Linked DNA regions of Homo sapiens: region 1 is linked to region 2. A link means that fine-mapping ties the variant in region 2 to the expression of a gene that starts in the linked region. Tissue or cell type: whole blood. Region 2 holds a variant in brackets; the other region holds the start of a gene. All regions are shown on one strand. Distances are between the middles of the regions.

Region 1 (8,000 bases), 22 kb before region 2:
TTTTGCTATTTATTCACTCAGAAGAATTCCTAGTGCCAACCCCCAATCAAAGGATTTTAAAAATGAGTATTAATGGAAAAACATTTAGTGTATTCAAGTCAATTTTTAGTTTTGCTACAAGTGGAAAAAGGCCATTCTGTATTCAGGAGAAAACGTTCTGATTTCCAAGAATATGGTTTAACAACCCAGGGATTAGGGGCTATATAGCATGATGGTTGAAATAGGCCCTTTGGAGTGGGACTGGACCCAGGTCCCACTAATGCTTGGTTTCCCAGTCTGTAAAATGGAGATACTACCCACCTCATACCGGTTTTTTGTTTTTGTAAGGTCTCAAATATTTCAAAAGGAGACAATGTATTTATAAATGTTTAGCACACTATCTGATACATCCTTGAGTGGGTACTTTTTATCTTTATCCCCATTTGTTCCTAGAGTCAGTAAGGTTGGTGAAATGGATTAAAAGATGGCCACAAATTATTTGACATCCCTCCCGTCAAGAAATGAGGTTTATGTCTACTTTCCTTAAATTTGGGTGGCTCTGGGTCTGCTTGATCAGTGGAACACAGTGGAAGGGCTATTGTGCCAGTTTCCAGTACCAGGTCTTTAAGTGACTGCCAGCTTACATTTCAGTGTCTTGAAACACTTGCTCTTGGACCCAGCACCATGGTGTGAGAAAACCCAAGAATCCCCTGAATCCTATAGATGGAGAGGAACTGAAACCCCCCAAACCCCGGCCCCAGTTCTCTGGCCAATGTCCACAACTGAGAGCCAAGAGCCAACACTAATTTGCCAGCCATGTGAGTAAACTCCTTGGAGGAAGCTCCTCTAGTCCATTCCAGCTGCCCCCAGCCGACACCAACTGGAATAGAGACTAGCTGGCCCTGCCCAAATTACAGATTAGTGAGCAAAATGGTGGTTTTAAGCCACTAAATTTTCAGGTGGTTTGTAACAGCAATAGATAACCAGAACAGATTAAATCAAGGTGTGTTCCTCCTCCACTCCATCAATGACTTAGGAAGGGTAGGCAAATTCATTTTGTCCAGAAATGTGTGGTATATAGAGAAAGTAGGTCATGAAGAAACTCTCTGAGTTTGCTGTAAGCTGTGTGACCAGGGCTTGACTAAACAACTCAGTCCAGTAATTCAGCAAATCTTTTTAAATGCCTATCTTCCACTTGGTGCTAAACAGAGTAACTCATAATTGATGTCACCTGACCGGGTGCGGTGGCTCACGCCTGTAATCCCAACACTTTGGGAGGCCGAGGCGGGCAGACCACCAGAGGTCAGGAGTTCGAGACCACGCTGGCCAACATGGTGAAGCCCTGTCTCTACTAAAAATACAAAAATTAGCCGGGTGTGGTGGCACGCGCCTGTAATCCCAGCTACTTAGGAGGCTGAGGCAGGAGAATCCCTTAAACCCGGGAGGCAGAGATTGCAGTGAGCCGAGATTGCGCCACTGCACTCCAGCCTGGGCAACAGAGCAAGACTCCCTCTCAAAAAATAAATAGGCCGAGCGCAGTGGCTCACGCCTGTAATCCCAGCACTTTGGGAGGCCAAGGCGGGCGGATCACCTGAGGTCGGGAGTTCAAGACCAGCCTGACCAACATAGAGAAACCCCATCTCTACTAAAAACACAAAAAAATTAGGCATGGTGGCGCATGACTGTAATCCTAGCTACGCGGGAGGCTGAGGCAGGAGAATCGCTTGAAACCGGTAGGCGGAGGTTGTGTTGAGCCGAGATTGCACCATTGCACTCTAGCCCGGGCAGTAAGAGCGAAACTCCATCTCAATAAATAAATAAATTAGTAATAATTTATGTCACCTTGGTCACAGCTGTCACACCCGACTGTGTCTTTGTAACCATCTTTGTTTCAGATCCCACGGATATCTATTTTAAGTCCATTCAAAGATGTCTGCTAGGCCGGTTGTGGTGGCTCACACCTGTAATCCTAGCCCTTTTGGAGGCCAAGGTAGGTGGATCATCTGAGGTCAGGAGTTCGAGACCAGCCTGGCCAACATGGTGAAACCCTGTCTCTACTAAAAATTCAAAAATAGCCGGGCATAGTGGCACGTACTTGTAATCCTAGCTACTCGGGAGGCTGAGGCACGAGAATCGCTTGAACCTGGGAGGCGGAAGTTGTAGCCAGCCGAGATCGTGCCACTGCCCTCCAGCCTGGGCGACAGAGCAAGACTCCGTCTCAAAAAAATAAAAAATGTCTGCTAACCCATTCTGACTGGCCACCTGACCCTCAGTTCATACCTTAAACCCCTCTAGTTCCTCTAGTCATATACCACACTTTGGCCATAAGGTATCATGCAACTAAAGAGACACAATGCTTAGTTGTCCAATCAAGAGAAATCAGCTCAAACGAATCCTTTTTCAAAGTTTGGCAGTTTTGAAGAGGCCTTTTCCTGAAAGGTATCTGATTCCTGATTGCGTGGCTCAAAATAGTTCTTCAATTCTCATCTTGTATAATTAGTCAAGAAACCAATTACTGCCGAGTAATCTTTATGATGCGAAGATTATAACGTAAATTACAGGACATCGACTTCTTGCGATGGGGCTTTCCTTCCACGAGGGGTAGGAACTGTCTTGAAATCAGACGTCAGCATCACCTGGTTCAAGGGATAAGGGACTGGCTCTCCAGCGACTTGGCAACTTACAAGCGCTCTTTAAACACGCCTTAAACTACTTATTTAATCCTCCACACTCAGGGAGGCGCAATTTATTCTCGAGTTGCGAGTGAGGAAATTCTGGCTCGTGGCTTCGATTCCTTCATCCGTACAATGGGGGCGACTTGAGACGGAGTTCCCACACAACGGGTGCTCGCCGAAGCGCCGCATCCCTCCGCACTCCCTTCCGGGACTTCCTCTCCCTGTCTTGCCCCGCCCCGGCATCGGTAACGCTCGCCTGTGATTGGATGCCGGCCGGCCGTGAGGCGGTGGAAGGGGTTGCGGTGGCCATGGTGACAGGAGGCGGGGCGCCGCGCCCCTCCGGCAGTCACCGAGGCCCGGACCTGCGGCGTCGGCGGCGCGCGCAGAGGGCCAGGCGGGCGTAGAGGCCGGACCGACGCGTGGCGGCAGAGGGTATCCAAGGCCGGACCTGGCGCGCAGGCGCTGACCCGACCTGGCAGTGAGCTGGCCGCGGCCTTGGCTGAGAGGCCTTAACCCCGCCGGGCGGCCGCGCCCTGCATGCGAGTTGGGCCGCGGGCGGGGTTGGAGCCTACTCGGGGCGACTGCGATGGACGCCTTAGAAGGAGAGAGCTTTGCGCTGTCTTTGTGAGTAGCTCCTCCAGGGCGCAGGCGACTTGGGGCCGGAGGCAGCGGGCGTTCGCCCCGGGGCCTGACCCTATAAAACAGGTGTCCTTAGGGGCCGGGCCGGGCCGGGCCGGGCAGGGTGGGGGCCGCCAAGGCGCCGTCCCAGCTCCAGGCCTTCCTTTTGTAGAGTACTAAGGCTGCAGGTTTCAGGCCCCGCAGGACAGGAGTGCGAGGCGGGTGTCACCGTTGATCAGCGCCTCCATCACAATCCCCAGCCGCCAACCCTCAGCTGTCAGCAAAGCCTGGAGGGGTTGAGCGCCCGAGGCCCCTCCACCCCTCCCTGGCCCCCGCCTCCCGGACTCCTGACCAAATGACCCCCCCCGGCAGGTGTTTCGCCCGTGCCGGGTTCATGCTCACAAGCAGACAGGTATGGGGTGATAGCTAAGAGCCTGGAGAACAAGTTTTTATTAAAGTGGAGTCATGACATTGAACGTTCATGTCACAAACGTGCCGAGTGTGTTTTCTTCTGTTTGGACTTACTAGATCAGTCAGTCATTCTTAATCGTTGAAGATGGGTGATGGGAAGTTCGTTTTGCTACTCTTTTTTCTCTTGTGCATGTTTGAAAACGTCCATACTAAAAACATTTTTTTAATGCATTATTTGAAATAGCACCTAATCCAGGCATGTTTTTCAGCTCCTCCGCCTCTGATGCAGAATTTGATGCTGTGGTTGGATATTTAGAGGACATTATCATGGGTAAGCTTTTAAGATACTGTTTTTAAGGACTTGCTTGTTTCTTTAAGGACATTGAAATCAATTTGGAGAGTTAATTTTAAAAAGAGAAAACATCAAGCTGCCTGCAATTTTTAATGTAGCACAATGTAATACTTAAGTAAAGGCTTACTGCAGTTTGTCTTAGAAACAAACAGCCCAGTACTCCTGAAAACATCTAATAAGCATAGATTCAGAGGCTGGAAGGGACTGACTCAGGCTAATAGGGCACCAGCAGTGTGGCGTTCTTCGCAAAACTATAGGAAATAATGATCTACTCTATTTCTTATGTAGGGTAAGAGCAATTTCAATTTTAGATAGTTTTGAGTTTTAACATTTTCATGCCATAAAACACATAAAACCAGGCCAGGTGCGGTGGCTAACGCCTGTAATCCCAGCACTTTGGGAGGCCGAGGTGGGCGGATCACGAGGTCAGGAGATCAAGACCATCCTGGCTAACACGGTGAAACCCTGTCTCTACTAAAAATACAAAAAAAATTAGCCGGGCGTGGTAGCGGGCGCCTGTAGTCCCAGCTACTCAGGAGGCTGAGGCAGGAAAATGGCGTGAACCTGGGAGGTGGAGCTTGCAGTGATCCGAGATCGTGCCACTTCACTCCAGCCTGGGCGACAGAGCGAGACTCCGTCTGGAAAAAATAAAAATGAAAATAAACACATAAAACCATAACCATAAGCACACATGGCCATAAAGAAAACAAGGTATTAAGCTTCAGCTGGTTCTGTATTTTCCTAGGTTTTGAGTTCCTACTTGTGGATGTATTTGGGCATCCATGAAACCTGCTAAGTAACAGAGAAGCAGTAACAGTCCCCAGAGGTTTAAGACAAGTATGTAGGAGGGGAAAACTTACATTTGAGAAAATTCTGTTGACTTTAAGTTTTATGAGAATTGAGAAAAGAACACTGTTATTTGGTGTTATTGGCTGTATGGCTTAATCCATTTAGAATGAAAATTACTGACCAAGTTTTTATACCTTCAGGTATAAAGGTTCATGCCCTTAACTCCTGAATATAGATGTTTCATCATTAAGCTCGTTTCCCATGTGGACTTGGGGATTTCTGGGGAATACTGAAGAATCCATTCAGTTCTCTTGCCTATTATACCCTATATGCTATGGGAAAATGAGCCTTCTGTGAGCCTACGGTATTTATCCCAAAGTCTGGGTCCTTTCTGAAACTTTCCTTTTATTTTTAGAAATAATCTATTCAGTTGTTAAAATTCCTTATTCCGGGATGGGTACGGTGGCTCACACCTATAACCCCAACACTTTGGGAGGCCAGCGCAGGTGGATTGCTTGAGTCTAGGAGTTCGAGACCAGCCTAGGCACCATAGGGAGAACCCTGTCTCAATTAAAAAAAAAAAATTCCCTATTCCCTATCATTTATTAAGTGTTCACTATGAACTAATCTATTTACATGAATTCTCATCTAAATTCCACTTCCAATCCTATATGATAACTACCATAAACCATTCTTATTTTCCAGATAAATGTGTTTATATGGGGGTTAGAGAAATTAAGTAACTTACCCAAGGTCACACAATTAGTAAGTAGCTGAGATGCGATTCGAACCCAGACGGGCTAGCCTCTTTCAGACCCCATAATTTTAATCACTACACTGTTTCCACAACTGCTGTGGAAGTTATATCAAAATAAGAGAGAACCAATTCATTCCTTTTCAGAAAAGTAATGTCAGGGAGTTCCCAAGCCACCCTGTGTGGATATGGTTAAAATGGACTGAAGGATGGTGGTGATCATTGCACAACAATGTAAACATACTTAAAGCCACTGAGCTGTGTGCTTAAACATTAAAATGATAAAAAAAAATTGTATATCTCACCACAATTTAAAAAGAAAACAGGGCTGGGTGCGGTGGCTCACACCTGTAATCCCAGCACTTTGGGAGGCGGAGGCAGGCAGATCACCTGAGGTCGGGAGTTCGAGATCAGCCTAGCCAACATGATGAAACCCTGTCTCTACTAAAAATACAAAATTAGGCTGGCGAGGTGGCACACACCTGTAATCCCAGCTACTCAGGAGGCTAAGGCAGTAGAATCTTTTGAACCCTGGAGGTGGAGGTTGCAGTGAACCGAGATCGCACCATTGCACTCCAGCCTGGGCAACAAGAGAAACTCCAGCTCAAAAAAAAAAAAAAAAAAAAAAAAAGAAAGAAAGAAAAAGAAAACAGGAGGATTGGGCTATTTCCACATCAGGGTCCCATTTAATACCCCCTTAAAACATCAGCTTTCCTTCCAGAGACTGATCATTGAGAAAGCAGTACTGCTGACATAGATCCTGCCTACTTATAAATCATAATGGTTGGTAATCTCCATTAAAAAGAATAAATTTTCCCCACTGTGGTTCAGATGACGAGTTCCAGTTATTACAGAGAAATTTCATGGACAAGTACTACCTGGAGTTTGAAGACACAGAAGAGAATAAACTCATCTACACACCTATTTTTAATGAATACGTAAGTAGATTTCTATGTCTCCTACCAGGAGGTCAGAGTTTTTAAAAATTTAAATTTAGATTCAAAAGACATTGAAATTTGCTGCCTTTTAAAATATGCCACCAGTACACTTCCAGGAATCCTCATTAGCATCTGGTTTAAGTTCATTTTCCTCTGCACAGCCTTTGGGGCTATTTTCCAAAAGGCTTTCAGGCAAATATTTGATTAACTCATCAGCTTCTTATTTAAAAGAAGTTTGACCTGGGCTTGGTAGCACACCTGTAGTGCCAGCTATTTGGGAGGTTGAGGTGGAAGAATCACTTGAGCTTAGGAGTTTGAGACCAGCCTGGGCAACACAGCAAGATCTCTGTCTCTAAAAAAAAAATGATAATAATAAAGATAATAAATAAAAGACGTTTGGCTTATCATAATCCTGCTTTTAATCACAGTACATGAGTTCTTCATACCTTGCATTTGCATGCTTTTGACAAACCTTTCTGCTTTCACATACTCTTTCTTTCTTCTATATAATCCAGTCATATATGCATGACTATTAAGTAAAAGTGAAAACTGAGACCAAGATCACTAACTATTTGGTGGAAAAACCAAGACTGGAACCCAGGAACCTCAGCTCGTCACCCTTGGGTCTCTACACTTTACCCTGAGGCCTCTTAACAGCCCCCTGGGATTCTGTCATCTAAGAATCCATTTTGGCCTCCAGGACTTTATTTTCTTAACACAGAAGCATGGCATAAACAAACCTGCCCAGAAGGAACCTGTGACTGCCTCCATGTCCGTATGTTCTGTTACACAGATGCCCTCTACCCAGGAGGCAAAGCCCCCACTTACTGCATCCTGCACTGGGTTGTGGGTGTGGGTACCGTGCTACTCACTGTCTCCACCTGTGTCAGAGCATCCACCCTGTTACAGCACCATTATCAGCTAAGGCTTCTCTTCCACACCAGGCTGAGTACTTCTCCAGGACAGGAGCTGTGTTTTGGTCCTCTTTGGTATCCTTGGCACTCAGTGTAGATTGTGGCACACAGACCTCAGGAAATGTTTAGAAAGGGCTGGGCAGGCTTTCTGAAAAGAAGTCTTGTTTTCCCAAAGTATGGTCTCACCAAAATCCTTTCCACTGTTGCAGATTTCTTTGGTAGAAAAATACATTGAAGAACAGCTGCTGCAGCGGATTCCTGAGTTCAACATGGCAGCCTTCACCACAACATTACAGTGAGTTGAGCTTGACTGATTTTTGTGTTTTGTTTTGTTTTCTCACTTTCTTCCTTCCCTAGGCTGACCAAAAGACGCTCCTTGTTTGTTTTCCTGTGCATGCCGTTGGTGGTTAGGTCCTATGGAGGAAGCCCTCAAACCTTTTAATGAAATCTTGAAAAGATCAGGCATTGGCTCACGCTTGTGTTCTCAGTGCTTTGGGAGGCCAAGGGAGGAGGATCACTTGAGCCCAGGAGTTCAAGACCAGCCTGGGTGACATAGTGAGGCCCCGACCC
Region 2 (9,247 bases):
GCCCGAACTGGACTGCACAGGCCCCAGCCCTCACAGCCACAGAGAATTCTCTGCGGCAGGTTTGTCGACTCACTATGCAGACTGTCTCAGGGTGCAGGCCAGCAAAGGGCCAGCTGAGGCAGGGCCCAGGGAGCTCGTGGAGGCCCCCAGAGGCACCTCGGATGTGGCCATCCTGGGCCTCCCCAGCCCCTCCTACCCCCACCCACCCCTTGCTGGTGGAGATGCTCTGGAGAGCGCCTTCTCCACGAGGGCACTCTCTGGAATCCCTGGCCACGGAGAGGACACGAGGGTCTAGCTTTGGAGAAAGGCTCCATTGCCAATCAAGACACACAGAGGTGTCCTCTTTTTCCCCTGGTCAGCGCCCAGGTACATGGCACCAAGGCTGCGTAGTGACCTTGCCACCAGCCCAAGGACAAGTCAGTGGGATCAGAGAAGCGGCTCCGGAGCAGGACCTGCCTCTGGCTGCTAGGGTTTGGAGACAGAAAGTCCTGGCTGCTCCCAGCAGCTGAGGGGCTGCCGCCAGCCCCTAGAGCACCTGAGGGCCTGGGCCTAGAGCACAGACAGAGCTGGGGTGCCTGCCAGGCACCCCATCCAAAAGCAACCTCGTCGAGGACCAGAAGGGAAGCTCCTGTGTGGATCCCTACAGAAGCCAGGGACAAGACTCGGGGGCCTGTAGCTGAGCTGGCCCAGGGAGCCCTCAGCCCTCACAACCCTCCTTCCTCGGCCTACTCCCCATCCCCCAGGGATCTGGCTTGGGAAGGGTATGGCCCAGTGGGGAAGTGGCAGGTGGGGCCTCGAGCTTGGAAGTCAAAAGCTGTGTGGCTGTGTGATGCTGACCGAGTACCTTCCCTGCTCTCCGAGGAAGATTCTGGGTTTTGTTCACTGCTGTATCTTCAGTGCCCAACAGTGCCCGACACATAATATACGCTAAATACACAATGTGCTTAGGAACTAACAATCCTATTTCTTCAACCATGACAGAGACCAGAACCCTGCCCTGCACAGGCACCGTGTATTAAAAGAGGAAGCAGTGGGGCTGGGCGTGGTGGCTTATGCCTGTAATCCTAGCATTTGGGGAGGCCAAGGTGGGAGGATTGCCTGAGCCCAGGCGTTCAAGACCCCATCCTGGGCAATATACAGGGAGCCCATCTCTGCCAAATACTTTAAAAATTAGCCGAGTGTGGTGATGGTGCACCTGTGGTCCCAGCTACTTGGGAGGCTGAGTGGGGAGGATCGCTTGAACCTGGGAGGTTGAGGCTACAGTGAGCCATGACTGTGCCACTGTACTCCAGCCTGAGCAACAGCAAGACCCTGTCTCAAAATAAACGAAAATAAATAAAATTAAAATTAAGTAAAGTTAAAATTAAATTAACAAAATAAATTAATAAGAAGCAGGTGTCCATCTGTGAACTGCCCCTGGCCTTGCCTCCCCCCAACCCAAGTAAGGGGCTCAGCCCAAAGTGGGAGGCCCAGGGAAGGTGTCCCGCTCTCCAGGGCTCAGCACCTGCTCCTCCCCACACTGGGGTGAAGCTCCAGGGATCCACCCCCCAACACACAGCACCCTGCCAGCCTCTGCTGCCCGTCAGCACTCTCACCGCCGCAAGCAGGCCAGGTGAGGGTAGGCAGGTGAGGAAGCCAGGGCGGAGCCACAGGGCCTTGCCCGCTGTCACACACCAAGCTGGGGGCAGAGCCCTTACGAGTGTGGACCCAGGGCAGGATGTCTCAGAACAACACCCTGCCAGAAACAGACACACCTGGAGAGGCCACGAACCCCCAGAGCTGGGGGGAGGCCAGTGTTCTGAAGGAGAACAAACACTTCGGGCAGCACGCCTCCGTCCCTTCTCCAGGTGAGAACTGGGTGCGTCCAAGATAAACAATTATTTTTTCATTTAAAGCCAATTCCTCATGGGCCTCCGCTGCCACTGTGTTGCCAGCTTCCAACTAACTAAAGGAAAGTCAGAAAATGCAATGAACCAAAAATCAAGAAAAGACCAATTCAGGTTTCCACTATCATATGCCTATCAATCACCTGTCCCATGACTCACAGCCTAGGTCACAATAACCACTCAATGCCTTCTCGCTCTGTGCCAGACACATCTCATTGATTCCTCCATCACCAGACCCTCCTCAAATGTTCTATCTGTTATTCCCATCTTCCAAAGGGAATCTCAGGAGGCAATGTGCCTGAGGTCACTGTGGGTAAAGGACAGGGCAGGAGGCCGGGTGCAGTGGCTCACACCTGTAATCCCAGCACTTTGGGAGGCTGAGGCAGGTGGATCACTTGAGCTCAGGAGTTCGAAACCAGCCTGGACAATATGGAAAACCCCATCTCTACCAAAAATATAACATTTAGCTGGGCATAGTAGCATGTGCCTGTGGTCGCAGATACTTGGGAAGCTGAGGTGGAGGATCAATGGAGCCTGGGAAGTCAAGGCTGCAGTGAGTCATGATGGCGCCACTGCACTCCAGCCTAGGTGACAGAGACCCTGTCTCAAAAAATAAATAAAAATTTTAAAAGGATAGGGAAGGACAGGAACCCAGATCCGTGCTTCCTTGGAACCTGCGCTACTATGAGTTATTTAGTGAAGTGTAAAAAATGAGGACACTTCAGCTGGCTCTAGGAGCCAGTCTGGGCTGGGCACCCAGGCTCCCCCCACTGCCCGCCGCCATCCCTGCCCCGCCCTGTGCTGTGCTCCAGCCCCACCCCTGGTTTCCAGATCAGCGAACACAGCGTCCAGATGAAGCCGGTGGATAAGGACTGGGAATTTCTGGCGTTCTTTCTGGCTGTGCTGCCTGGCTCTGTGCCTGCGGAGCTGCCTCGGTTTCTGCCCTAGAACAAGGAAGGTTCGTTCCTGCATTTGAACCAGACAGACTGGTTTCTCCTGGTTCCTGAGCCCCCAGCCCAGTCCCCCAAGAGAGACCCTGCTCGGAACAGGGCACCCAACACAGGCCTCGCTGTGGGCATCTCTCTGGGTTAATATATTTAACAAATGTCTATGGAGAAGGGGCCAAGAAAGATCTCACTGGCAAGGTGATGATAAGCAAAGACCCAGGGAGGTGAGGGAGGGGCAGGGAGGGTGCCACGTGGGTATCTGAGAACAGAACTCTATGCCTTCACCCCTGGGCCCTGCAGGTCTCTCTTGCTTACATGTTCGTCTGTCCCCGTGTTTCTCTGGAGGTGTCTACATGAATATCTAACTGTCTCTCTCCTACACACACAGGCAAA[C/A]CACATCCTCCCCTCCTTCCCAGCTCTCTGAGGTCCCTGCCATGCCTCCCCAGACAGGTCCTGCAGATAAACAAAGGGAACTGTCTGGAAATCTCAAGGGCACAGGGCCTTTTTTTTTTTTTTTTTTTTTGCTTTTCTGAAAACCTGAATAATTTGGATTAGGAACTTTTTTTTACATATGAAGACTACAGTGTCAAAAACGACCTTTGCATCTTCAAAGAATTTCCAAACAATTGGGTAACGAAGAGATGTTTTTGTTAAAACCACCTGTGGCATCAGAGAGAAGATTCGTCACAAATGCCCAACCAAGAGGCACTCCTTGCTGCAGTGAAACCCTGTTATTACAGTTTCCCCAGAAGCTGCCAACACTGACAGCCAGACAGGCCAGGTTCCTGCAGGGTGCATGCCCTTCACTGACTCTGAGGGAAGTTTTTCCTCATCTCTTATTGTGGTTTGCAATGTGTTCCCCAAAATATGTTCAAGTTCTAACCCCTAGTACCTGGGAATGTGGCCTTATTTGAAAACAGGCTCTGGCCAGGCGCAGTGGCTCATACCTGTATTCCCAGCACTTTGGGAGCCTGAGGTGCATGATCAGTTAAGGACAGGAGTTTAAGACCAGCTTGGCCAATATGGAGAAACCCATCTCCAGTAAAAATACAAAAATTAGCCGGGCATGGTGGTGGGTGTCTGTAGTCCCAGCTACTCAGGAAGCTGAGGCAGAAGAATCACTTTGAACTCAGGAGGCAGAGGTTGCAGTGAACTGAGATTGCACCACTGCACTCCAGCCTGGGGGACAGAGTGGGACTCTGTCTCAGAAACAAAACAAAACAAAACAAAACAAGGCCTGGCATGGTGGATCATACCTGTAATCCCAGCACTTTGGGAGGCTGAGGCAGGTGGATCACCTAAGGTCAGGAGTTCAAGACCAGCCTGGCCAACGTGGTGAAACCCTGCCTCTACTAAAAATACAAAAAATTAGCCAGGCATGGTGGCATGTGCCTGTAATCCCAGCTACTTGGGAGAGGCAGGAGAATCGCTTGAACCTAGGAGACAGAGGTTGCAGTGAGCCGAGATCGCACCACTGCACTCCAGCCTGGGCAACAAGAGCGAAACTCCGTCTCAAAAAAAAAAAAAAAAGAAAGAAAGAAAGAAAAGAAAAGAAAATAGTGTTTGCAGACATGCTCGAGTTAAGGGGGGTTATACTGGATTGGGGGCATCTCTAATCCAATGACTGGTGTCCTTGCAAGAGAAATGTGGACACAGAGACCACAAGGGGAGACCATCGTGTGAAGACAGAGGCAGAGACGAGAGTGATGCATTTGTAAGCCAAGGCACACCAAGGCTTGCTGGTCACCACCAGAAGCCAGGAGGGGGACATGGGACAGACTCTCCCTCAGAGCCCCAGAAGAAAGCAACCCTGCCAACACTTTGATTTCAGTAACTGAGACAATATATTTCTGCCACCCAGTTTGTGGAACTTTGTTACGGCAGCCCCAGGAAATGAATAGGTTTTTCTCAGCTGCTCTCTGAATCTGTGGATGGGTGTCATGACCTTGTTCACCTGAGTGACACTGGCATTGGTTCTGTTGGAGGGGTGGCCTATCGACTCCTTGAATTCACGCTCTGGCCCTGCCAACTTAACTAGCTGTGTGACCTCAGGCAAGTGGCTTAGCCTCTCTGTGCCCTTGTCTTCATCTTCCTTCATCTTTGAAATGTATCTACCCCCTAGGGTGGTTTTGTTTTGTTTTGTTTTTGAGACAGGGTCTCACTTTGTCACCCAGGCTGGAGTGCAATGGCACTATTGCAGCTCACTGCAGCCTCGAACTCCTGGGCTCAAGTGATCCTCCCACCTCAGCCTCCCAAGTAGCTGGGACTACAGACATGCACCACCACTCCTAGCTATTTTTAATTTTTGTAGAGGTGGGGTCTCCCCATGTTGCCCAGGCTAGTCTAGAACTCCTAGGCTTAACTGATCCTCCTGCCTGGGCCCTAGGGTAGTTTTGAGCAAGGAACTTAGACCAGCAACCAGCATAGGCTTAATATTCAACATGGCCAGGTGTCATGATCACCCTGAGGGGTTAAGAACATGGGTTTTCAAGTCAGGCCCTGGGCCTACTTTCCTGCATTCGCCACGGTGTGTGAGGCTCCTCAGGAGGGTGAGGCCTCACTGAGAGAATGACAGTATCCACATTCAAGCACCAGGCACAGCCCAGGCAGAGATAAGGACCCACGTCAGTGCCAGCCCCACCCACCTGACAGATAAGGCGGTGGTGCTCCCACAGGAGGCCCCAGAAATCCAGCCCAGCCCTCAGATCTCCCTTGGAGCTGCACTCCCTCAGCTCCTCATAGGCTGAGGGGCCTTGGGCAGACCCCTTCACCCCCTGGCACAATGGAAGCAGGGAGGTTTGGCTTGCTGTTCTCTGAGATTTCCCGCAGAGGTCAACACTCCTGAACATGGGCCTCCTCCAGGGGCCCCAAAGGGAGGGGTTTGACCAACCCTATGGACTCTGAGCTGTCATGCAAAGATGGTCACCCCAACTCTTTTCACCCTCCTCACTTCCGGGGCAGCATCAGACCTTTGTGGGCTCACTGTGTGGCCTTGGGGGAGTCACCCAACCTTTCTGGTCTGTTTCCTCATCTGGCAAGTGAGGAAATTGGGGTACAGGGACCCTAGGGGGACACCTGCTCACCTCACAGGTGTGTCATGGAGATGAAACCATGTGAAAGAAAACATTAAAAGCCATAGCAGTCGTGAGCAGTCGTGAAGGCTATGAGACAGTCCGGGGCTGGGGGAGGGAAATCCCAGAGAGGGACGCCACGAGGCAGGAAGGCAGCCGGGGCCTAGAGGACACCAGGGCTCAAGCTCAGCAGCTGCCAGGGCTGGCAGGTCACAGGAATGACTACAGTGGGCCGGGGAGTCTCTGGAGTGGCTGCTGGGAATGCAGGCCTGGGGTGACCAAAGTTTCTAATTTTTCAAGAGACACTAGAAGTCTGGATTTTATATGGAAATCAGCTATTTATTTATTTATCTGATGGAGTCTCGCTTTGTTGCCCAGGCTGGAGTGCAGTGGCGCAATCTCGGCTCACTGCAACCTCTGCCTCCTGGGTTCAAGTCATTCTCCTGCCTCAGACTCCCAAATAGCTGGGATTACAGGTGCGTGCCACCACCATGCCCGGCTAATTTTTGTATTTTTGGTATAGACAGGGTTTCACCATGTTGCCCGGGCTGGTCTCAAACTCCTGACCTCAGATGATCCACCTGCCTTGGCCTCCCACAGTGCTGGCATTACAGGCGTGAGCCACTGCACCTGGCAAAAATCAGCTTTTTAAACATGGGTGACTGAACCAAAGGTTTTTAGAAACAACGTAACGGCCAAAGGGGCCAAGGCAGCAAATCCTTCCATGGCCCCCGAGTCCAAACACAGTCCCCGAGTCTATCCACAACCCCCTTTTCCAGCCCCCAAGTCCTTTACTGGCCCCTGAGTCATTCCCCAGCCCCCGAGTCCATCCCCAGCCCCCGAGTCCATCTCCAGCCCCCGAGTCCTTCCCCAGCCCCTGAGTCCATCCACAGCCCCCAAGTCCTTCCACAGCCCCCGAGTCCTTCCCCTGCCCCCAAGTCCATCCATGGCCCCTGAGTGCTTCCCAGGTCCCCGAGTCCTTCCCCAGCTCCGGCCTCTCTATTCCCACTGCTCCATCCAGGAAAACCACGCCCAGCATGGCAAAGCAAACCCTTCCTGGGGTCCCCCTCACTGGGGACACATCTGGGCAAGCCAAGGACACTCAGAACTCAGCCTGGCCAGGCTCGGTCCCCACCCCCGCTCTGGCCCTTCTCCCTACAGTGAAAGGGACTTTATGGGGACAAAAAGCCACCCATTGTATCACACGAGACAAAGGGGCAGGGGACAGAGGCTCCGGGCGCCTAAGCTGGCCACGACACAGCCACACACCACCCCCTGACTGTGTGAGAGGGAGGGCACCTTGGAATTCCCATGCCATGCATTCCAGCATTCGAGGATCCTGGAGTCATCCCCGCTCTCCAGGAAGGCGACAGCAGACTCGGAACCCAGCCCCAGATCCACTAGACCTGGGCAGTACTGAATAGCCCTAAGCTCTCTTTTCTCGTCGGAAAAATGGGCATGTAAGTTGCCAAACGGAGTCATTCAGTCATTAAACAAACTGTGCCAGGCGCTATTCTATGCCCTGGGAACACAGTGGGGAGCTTGGCAGCGAGGGTCGCCACCCCAGGCCACAGCCACCCCACCCCCACCTCCCGCGTGGACCCTGCTTCCTGGGGCTATGGCAGGAGGACGATGCTGGAGGTGGGGGCTCAGACCTGGTCCTCCTCCAAGGCGTTCATTGTATCGCTTGTTATTCCTGAGTCCTGGGTCTCAGAGCAGAGAGCATTTCAATGCCAAACGCAGAAGAAGTTGCAGCACACCTACCCCAGTGGCTGAGCTGAGCCGCCCCTGGACCCCCAGCAAGGTCCTGCAGCCCCCACGTGTACTTGCAGCCAAGGAGCCACTACCACCTCATCCTTGCTGTGAGGAGCCACTACCACCTTATCCTTGCTGTGAGGTCCCCGCTTAGGGCTTTAGAAAAGTCTTCCCACCCGGGCACGATGGCTCACACCTGTAATTCCAGCACTTTGGGAGGTCAAGGCAGGTGGATCACCTGAGGTCAGGCGTTCCAGACCAGCTTGGCCAACATGGTGAAACCCCGCCTCTAATAAAAATACAAAAAGTTAGCTGGGCGTGGTGGTGGGCACCTGTAATCCCAGCTACTCGGGAGGCTGAGGCAAGAGAATTGCTTGAACCTGGAAGGCAGAGGTTACAGTGAGCCAAGATGGCACCATTGCACTCCAGCCTGGGCAATAAGAGCAAAACTCTGTCTCAAAAATAAAAAAAGAAAAAAAAAAGAAAAGTCTTCCCAACCTGAACTGAAACTACCCCTACTTAATCCCTCCCCGTTCCCATCCTGCCCTCTGGTCAGATCAAGCAGGTCCTCCCTCCACAGGCCGCCCCCAGGTGTGTGAAGGCGGGTAGGGGCCTCTTCAGTGACACTCCAAGGCCCTCTCTGGCTCTCAGAGCAGGTGGCAGCACTCGCAGGTGGGATCTCAGAAACTCAGAGCTCCCTGCCTGCCAGTCCCCTCCTCTGCTTCCTCCCTCCTTCCCAGGGTCTCCTAGGCCTACCCCACAAAGCCTACCCAAGCCTCCCCAGCACCCAGGCCCCTCCAACCACACAGAGCATTCCCAGGAAGGCCTTACCCTCCTTGTGAAGTCCCAGGTGGAGCCCTGCATTCATTCCCTCCAACTCCTGCCCCCGCAACTACCCTGCCAGGCCCCCGCCAGGGCTTTACCCCCAGGGCCTTCCTCCTTCTGGGCCCAACCCTCTCAAGGGAAACACTTGACCCATTCCACTGATGAGGAAAACCGAGGCTCTTGGAAGATCTGGACCTGAACCAAGGTCATGCCTGGTAAGGGTTGGGACCTGGATAGTTCTGTGGCCCAGGCTCCCCTTCCCCTGTCACCCAGGATGTGGGGACATTCCCCTGGAGACTACTTTATTTGAAGAGAGCATCACTGCTCTTGAAGCCAGAGCTGAGAGGGGGCAGTGGCAGAACTCGAACCCAAGGCAGCTGGGATAACAAGAAGCTTATAGTCTCAGCACCCCAAGGCCACCTCATCCTTCCATCGGCCCCTCCAGAGAAAGAACCAGCTGCTGTTGGAAGTATATAGAGCCTCATCAGTCCCGTGCACCCTGGCCTCGGCCTGCTGGAGGAATTGGGGTGCTAAAGTGAGTGTCTTCCTCTCTCCCTGGACTTCCGGCAACACTGGTTCTACACCCAATGCTGGCACTGATGTTCTGGGTGACCTTGAGCAAGACTTGTCTGTCTCAACTTCAAGGAGGGGCCCATTGGCAGAGCACAGTGGCTCATACCTGCAATCCCAGCACTTTGGGAGGCCAAGGTAGGAGGAACGCTTGAGCCCAGGAATTTGAGACCAGCCTGGGCAACATAAGCAA

The links. PIP is the estimated chance that this variant, and not a neighbour inherited with it, causes the effect.
Region 1: it holds the start of ARL2BP, and the variant in region 2 is fine-mapped to the expression of ARL2BP in whole blood (TOPMed, PIP above 0.99). The same link has a PIP of 0.9 or more in T cells.

Annotation. Positions count from the first base shown.
Region 1 is chr16:57,242,128-57,250,127 of GRCh38, forward strand. It overlaps ARL2BP (ARF like GTPase 2 binding protein), which reads left to right and starts at 3,132. Exons shown (of 6, transcript NM_012106.4): 1 at 3,132-3,278; 2 at 3,953-4,014; 3 at 6,410-6,516; 4 at 7,640-7,725. The coding sequence starts at 3,241. It overlaps LOC124903697 (a long non-coding RNA gene), which reads right to left. Exons shown (of 2, transcript XR_007065082.1): 2 at 3,688-7,844. RefSeq lists silencers at 2,851-3,230, 3,321-3,530.
Region 2 is chr16:57,263,529-57,272,775 of GRCh38, forward strand. The region is part of intron 1 of PLLP (plasmolipin); the gene reads right to left. Among named protein-coding and RNA genes, the nearest start is that of PLLP, 17 kb to the right of the region's middle. RefSeq lists an enhancer at 1-626. The variant C/A (reference allele first, on the strand shown) is at 3,227.